Linked DNA regions of Homo sapiens. The protein of the gene in region 1 purifies or fractionates together with the protein of each later gene. This does not show direct contact. Each region holds a gene or a part of one and is shown in the gene's direction. Other genes may lie near its edges.

The links.
Region 2: the proteins of BCKDHB (region 1) and ETFDH fractionate together in Homo sapiens (co-fractionation; one large-scale study listed by BioGRID). This does not show direct contact.

Annotation. Positions count from the first base shown.
Region 1 is NC_000006.12:80,204,032-80,207,862, forward strand, and holds part of BCKDHB (2-oxoisovalerate dehydrogenase subunit beta, mitochondrial isoform 1 precursor), read left to right. Parts: exon of another isoform or gene 1-1,439; intron 1,440-3,831. UniProt on the Homo sapiens protein: Together with BCKDHA forms the heterotetrameric E1 subunit of the mitochondrial branched-chain alpha-ketoacid dehydrogenase (BCKD) complex.
Region 2 is NC_000004.12:158,678,465-158,682,295, forward strand, and holds part of ETFDH (electron transfer flavoprotein-ubiquinone oxidoreductase, mitochondrial isoform 1 precursor), read left to right. Parts: intron 1-2,002; coding exon 2,003-2,143; intron 2,144-3,643; exon of another isoform or gene 3,644-3,730; coding exon 3,731-3,831. UniProt on the Homo sapiens protein: Accepts electrons from ETF and reduces ubiquinone.

The DNA of each region.
Region 1 (3,831 bases):
GTACAATTACATGTAAAATTGTAGGAAACAATGACATGTATTATTTTTTCTTGATATACTGCTATAGTATAGGGCATTTTATATTTACCACTTTTAAGAGCTTTGGCATTTTCATAGCTTTTACAGGCTCTTTCTTGGGTTAGTTACATGAAAATAACCTGCAGATACTACTGTAAAAGTATAGCCTAGGATGTTTTTAGGTGAAGAGTGTTTTATAATTTAGTAGAAGATGTAAGATTTGTTATAGTAAATGTTTGTGAAGACTCACTTGACACCATCTAAACACTTGACATGCTTACAAATGATCCCGAGCCATTCTATTTGTAGTTGCTGTAATTAAGAGCAATATTTCAGATTGAGTTATTCATAGCTTCATGAAAATAACGCTTTTTGCAGGCATTTTCAAATCAAGTCAGACACCGGGTTTTCTTTCAAATAGCCAGACGTTCCAAATTATAGTTAAACTAGAGTTGTCTTCTTGTTTGCAACATATATCCACCACTTATCCTGGGGTTTGTATTTTTAGTGTAGATGGTGCTTTTGTATGGGGATATGATGTTTTATGATGGCGCAGTGCGGAGGGCATTCACATATGGTCAGGGCAAGCACTTTTAGAACTTTATTTACGTATCTATCTATATATATATAAATAATACCTTAAACATTCAAAAAGCATTTGTAGCAGCTTATTGTAAAGCACAAGTATACTAATACTTCATTTTGGCAACCGTGGAAGCAAAGAGAGTAGAGTTAGGGGCAGAAAGAAGGGTGAAGTTGTTTATATTTACATCGATAGCAGTTTGCTTTTGCATCACTGTGTTAAATCTGTTGGTCGCATCTTTGTCTGATCCTAGAATGCAGATCCATTTTCCTTAGGGCTCTATCCTACTGGGAAAGATGAAAGAGGAGACAAGCGATCTCTACTGAATGAGAAAGTGATGCATCAGACCTCTGACTTATTAGCGTCATTATTTTGTTTTGTTTTGGGATGCTTTCATCCGGTTGTGACAGTGAAAGCCAGCTTCTTGATTGCTTTGGGTCTATTTGAGACTCTCTTCGTTGCTGATGATGGTACCTCTCCTGTTTTCTTTTGATGTATCAAAAGAGGTAAAATTTTGATACTTAGCTTTTTCCTGCTAGGATTTAGAGATGATTTTAAAGAAGAGGGCCCTATAACCAAATATTTATATGGAAAATGAGGGTTTTTTTTCCCCCAGAGTGAAGCTTTTTTAATTCATCTTGATGAATTCTATAGTAACCAAAATTTATATTATAATCTCTTTTAATTAGCTGTGTTTTATCAGTTGTTTTTGTCTTATGACTCATTAGATCGCTGAGTTTTATTCGTTGTGTGTCAACTAAACCCCAATATATATCTTTTGGAACGCCTGATCAAGAAAAGAAAGCATATTAAAGGCAAAAACGATTCGTTGAACACACATTATCATACTCTATACACTAAAATGCCTCTGGGACACTTGAGGAATTCATACTTCTTGCTTAATCCTTGATACATGGTTTGGAAGTTATAAACCAAAATAAATATTTGCTCGGGGATAGAGAAAGGAGCAGAGTCTTTGACTGTTGCTCAAGGGAGTTAAAAAATTAGAGACTTAAATGGTCCTAGAAACCACAGCTAGTTTTTCCACTCAATTCTGAACTTGATATTAAAAAGCTAAGCTGGAGACTTCTGAAAAGCACAGTAGAAAATTCTTGAGTTTTGAAGTGCTTAAGAGACAGAGACCTACCCTGTGCCATGGGTGTGTGTGTGTGTGTGTGTGTGTGTGTGTGTGTGTGTGTGTGTAGGTGGATTGGCTTAAGAGAATCAGCTGTGTGAGTTCAAAGCCCTGAAATGAGTGGCATGTTGACACCGATGACCTATAGCTGCTTTTTAGTTGGCTACACTTGCTATTTGGTCTCAACCAGGTGTGTAGAATCCAGGTATATAGAACTCATATTTTGTGGGGCTGTAGTGACAAAATTGAAATTTTGAGGGGATTTAAACACATACTTGACCTTTTATTTGCCAAATTCTAAAGGTGTGAATGGTGAAAGGTAAGTAGAAAATATCTGGAAAGTGAAGCTATCACTTGGTAATGAAGTGACAAAGACCCATCATACTCTCAATTGAAAGCCATGGAGAGTTAGGTCTTACAATTAGAGGCAAACCAGATGTAGACCAGGTCATCTCAAACCCACAATACAGCCTCTACCCCTTTGAATTTTTTATTGAATTATGTACTTTTACTCTATCTGCGCAGCAGAGCCAAGGAGTCAATCCTCTCATTATCTGGAACTTCTATAAACCAGCATTCAATAAAAAACTAAGTAGATGAAGAGACAGGAGTATTTGATCAATAACAAAGGGGAAAGAAACAATAAAAAGCAGAAGCACAGCTGATCCAGATATTGGAGTTAGCAGACAAGAACATCTTGATTGTTATGCTTAGGAACATAGAGAAAATAAGGAACAAAAGAGGTAAGAGGGTGGAGAATTACCCTAGAAAGTTTGTGTGTGTGTGTGTGTGTGTGTGTGTACATGTATGTATATGGATCAAGTAAACTTTGTGGAGCCATCAGAGAAATATATATCTGACAATAAGAACTCAATGAATAGGCTTATAACATATCGGACTCAGTAGATGATAGCAATAATGAACTGGAAGGCTAGTTAATAGAAAATGTCCAAATTGAAGCACAAGTCAGAAAAGAGGATAAAACACATTTGGGATCTGGTCAAAAGATCTGTCTTATATACAATTTGAATTCCAGAAAAAGAAGAGAGAGAAAATCTCTAACAGTATCTAAAAAAAAATTCTCATGAAGATTTCAGAACATCATTACACAAGCTTTGTTAACTTTTAAGATTATATTCAAAGAAAACCACACCTGTATGCACAATGGCATAACATCTTAAATTGCTGACTGTGCTAGCCTACAATTCTATATTCAGTGAAAATATCTTTTAAAAATTAAGATGAAATAAAAATAGTTTAGGCAAACAGATATTGAGAGAATTTATCACTAGCAGGCTCTCACTAAAAGAAGGTACTGCAAGGGAGCTCCCTTTGGCAGAAGGAAAATGATTCTAAAAGAAAATATGGAGGAGAGCATACACTATAGCTTAGTATTGATTATCCGAAACAGTAGTCATAATTTTCTGTGAAAGTTTAAGTTTAGTGAAGTTTAAGTTAAATATATGGAATTGAAATGTAAGACAATAAAAACACAAAAGCTAGGGGGTCTTACATGGAGTTAAAATATTCTGTTGTTCTAGGATTATTATGAAGTGTAATGTTCTGGTTAGGTTATAATCAAGGATACAAGTTATAATCTCCAGTGTAACAACTGAAATAACAGGGAATGAATGCATATCTAGCAAGTTAATAAGAGAACTATAAATTAATAAAAATATTTGGTTAATCCAAAATAAATAAGTATGAAAAATGGATGGGTCAATAGATAACAGATGATAAGATGATATAAACCCAAATATAGAAGTAATTAAATTAAATACAAAAAGATTAAATAAACCTAGTAAAAGTCTAAGATCCTCAGACTTCATGAAAAACAACTACCACCACCATGTGTAGCTTAAAAAAGGCATACTTTAAATATAAGGACATCAAAATGTTGAAAATGAAAGGATGGAAAAAGAAAGCTGGTGTAGATACACTAATTTCAAATAAAGCATTAAGGCAAAAAGGACTACTAGAAGTGAAAAGGAGCATTTCATTATGCCAAAGGGACCAGTCCACCTTAAATATATCATAATCCTAAGTCTATTTCATCCTTAATAACATAGTTTGAAAATAAATAAAGCCATAAACT
Region 2 (3,831 bases), on another chromosome or scaffold:
TCAATATGTCTTATTGCTGGTAACATTAAACTTGATCACTTGCTTAAAGTGATATCTGCCATATTTCTCTACTGTAAAGTTAACATTTTTCACTTTCCATTCTCTACTTGTTAGAAGCTACTCAATAAGTTCATCCCACATCACTCAAAGGGAGGAGAGAATTGAAGAATTTATGGATATATCACCATCTTTTTTTTTTTTTTTTGAGACAAGGTGCTTGTTGCCCAGGTTGGAGTACAGTGACGTGGTCCTAGCTCACTGTAGCCTCGAATTACTGGGCTCTAGTGATCATCGTACCTCAGCCTCCTGAGTAGGTGGGACTGCAGGTGCATACCACCACACCTAGCTAATTTTTTTACTTTTTATTTTTTATTTCTGTAGAGAAGAGGTCTTGCTATATTGCCTAGGAGGATCTTGAACTCCTGGCCTCATGCAGTCCTCCCGCCTTAGCTGAGATTTACAGTCATGAGCCACTGTGCCCAGCCAACCATAGTCTTCTATACTTTGAACCTACCCTAATAAAATCTTCGATCAAATATAATTCATTTTGACCTAGGGAGCAGAGTATACTTTTTTTCTGAATGGCTTTCTAGCTATCTCTGCACCATTTAATGAGTAACCATTTCTTCTCCCTAATTTGAAATGGTATCTTTATTATATACCATATACCTATGTGTATTCTATTTCTGAACTCTTTATTCTTTTTTTAATTATTCTATCCCTTCTCCTATAACAGACTTCTAATGAATATAGCTTCAAATATAAGTTTCTATATCTGTCAAGAGTGGTTTCATGGGAGGATTCTTTGTCTTTTTTTAATGATAGGGACGATTATCAAGATGAACAGAGCCTGAGAAGGGAGTCAAAATTGAAGCTCAGAAGGGATGGTATCAGATGGAGGAATGTCTCTAGACAACGGGAGAGATAAGCCTTCTCATCCAGCTAGAAAGATTAACCCCAGTGGAGAAGAATATAGTCTGTTTCACTATATTCATTGAGTACAATCAACGGGAGAAAAGACATCTCTTCTGCTATAAACTGAGATAATGAACAAAGTATGGGCACAAATACAGATTATATTAGAAGTTACTGCCAAGGAGTTGAGAAAATTCCCATCTAATTGCTTCTGTCTTTATGAGGTTTGATGCTAGGGTACCTGCCCTGGATAAAGGAAAGAAGAGGTGGAGTTGAAGGTTTGAGGACAACAGAGAAGGTTCAGTGAACATTTTTGCAGATAAATCTTTGCATATTTCTGTTCATTTCCATAAAATACTTTTTGCTGACTCAAAAATGTATACATTTTTAAGGATATCAGAAGATACTGTGGCCAGGTGCAGTGGCTCACGCCTATGATCCCAGCAATTTTAGAGGCTGAGGCAGGCAGATCACTTGAGGCCAGGAGTTCGAGACCAGCCTGGCCAACATGGCAAAACCGCATCTCTACTAAAAAAAAAAAACAAAAATCCAAAAATTAGCTGGGTGTGGTGGTGCACACCTGTAGTCCCAGATACTCTGGAGGCTGAGGCGTGAGAATCGCTTGAAACCAGGAGGCAGAGGTTGTGGTGAGCTGAGATTGCACCACTGCACTGCAGCCTGGGTGACAGAGTGAGACTCTGTCTCAAAAAAAAAAAAAAAAAGAAGAAGAAAAAGAAGAAGATACTGCCTTAAGAACCTGACCATAAAACAAAGTTTGTGCTTAAAGCCATTGACCTAACACGGTGATTATACTACTCCATATTACTCTCAAAGTGTTCAGCTTTCATGACTAATCCATAGTTAAGCCTGACATGAGCTAAATTGAATAAATTTGCTTATTAGTTTTAAAATATTTAAGATTTGAAAACATTGCTTTATGAGAAAAAGCTATTCAAAGTGTTCACCTAGGAAAGATTATAGTATATTTCACTATACTCATTGAGTATAGTCATTCACTTATATTTTTTCAGTCTACTGAGGAAAACTAATTTTAAGGAAGATAATAATTTTCGTAATTTTTGTGCAGCATATCAGTGCTTTCATGCCTTAAAAATTAAGAAAAATTATCTACCTCTATGTGCTACAAGATGGTCTTCAACTTCTACTGTGCCTCGAATTACTACCCATTATACTATTTATCCCCGGGATAAGGACAAGAGATGGGAAGGTAAGTAATAATTTGTGTACAATTCCTGAGACTTTTCTGGATACTTTGTTTTCATTTTGTGGAGGAGAGTATTAATATTTTTCATAATTTAAAAACATCTAATAATATTTTGTGGCTTTACCAAGTCACATGCTGCATAATGACCCTTCAGTCAACAACACGACAATTATAATGGTAATCCCTTGACATTATAATGGAGCTGAAAATTCCTATCACCTAGTGACATCTTTTAGAACATAGCTTCCAGACCATCGTAGCTCAACACATTACTCAATTATTTGTGGTGAGTCTGATGTAAACAAACATACTCTACTGCCAGTTCTTTAAAAGTCTACCATATACAATTATGTACAGTACATGATACTTGATAATAAACGACTGTTACTGGTTTATGTATTTACTGTATTATACTTTTATCATTATTTTAGAGTGTACTCTTACTTAATTTTTTTAAAAAGTTAACTGTAAAACAGACACAGGCAGGTCCTTCAGGAGGTATTCTGGAAGAAGCTACCATTTGCATAGGAGATGACAGCTCCATGCGTGTTATTGTCTTTGATGACCTTCCAGTGGGAGAAAATGTGGAGGTGAAAGATATTGATGATCCTGACCCTGTGTAGGCCTAACTAATGTGTGTGTTTGTGTCTTAATTTTTAATAAAAGAGTTTAAAAGGTAAAAGGAAAAAAAATTTTAAAAAGAAAGAAACTTATAGAAAAATGATATAAAAACCATTTTTTGTACAGCTGTACAATGTGTTTGTGTTTTAGCTAAGTGTTATTACAAGAGAGTCAAAAAGTTTAAAACATTTAAAAGCTTATAAAATAAAAACATTACTGTAAGCTAAGTTTAATTTACTGACGAAAAAATTTTTTTATAAATTGCGTGTAACCTAAGCATACAGTGTTTATGAAGTCTATAGTAGTGTAATGTCCTTGTCCTTCACATTCTCACTGCTCACTCAGTCACTCACCAAGAACAGCTTCCAGTCCTGTAAGTTCTATTCATGGTAAGTACCCTGTACAGATATACCATTTTTAAATATTTTATACTGTATTTTTGCTGTACTTTTTCTGTGTTTAGATGTGTTTAGTTACATACATACTATTATAGTTGCCTACAGTGTTCAGTATAGTCAGTCACATGCTATATAGCTTTGTAGCCTAGGAGCAATAGCCTATACCCTGTTGCCTAGGTGTATCATAGGCTGTTCAATTAGTTTGTGTAAGTATACTCTATGATGTTTGCAAAAGGGCAAAATTGCCTAACGATGCATTTCTCAGAAAGCATTTCTGTCATTAAGTGACTTGTGACTGTATTTTACACAAGTAAATATTTGCTAAATGTATAATAATAAATCTCAAAGCCAAGAATTAGTTTATGGAAACTGAAATAAAGTATGTACTGGAACAGAACCTAAGAATATAATCATACTAATACAGTAATATGCTTAATATAATTATTGTGCAAAACACAGGGAGAATTTCCATAAATAATACTCTAAAGCACAGTGGATATTTTTTAACTGTCATGTGATTTATCATGTGATTATTGGGTTATATTAATCCCAGAATTTTTATTTCTCCCAGGAGTGAACATGGAAAGGTTTGCAGAAGAAGCAGATGTTGTAATAGTTGGTGCAGGCCCTGCAGGGCTCTCTGCAGCTGTTCGTCTAAAACAGTTGGCTGTG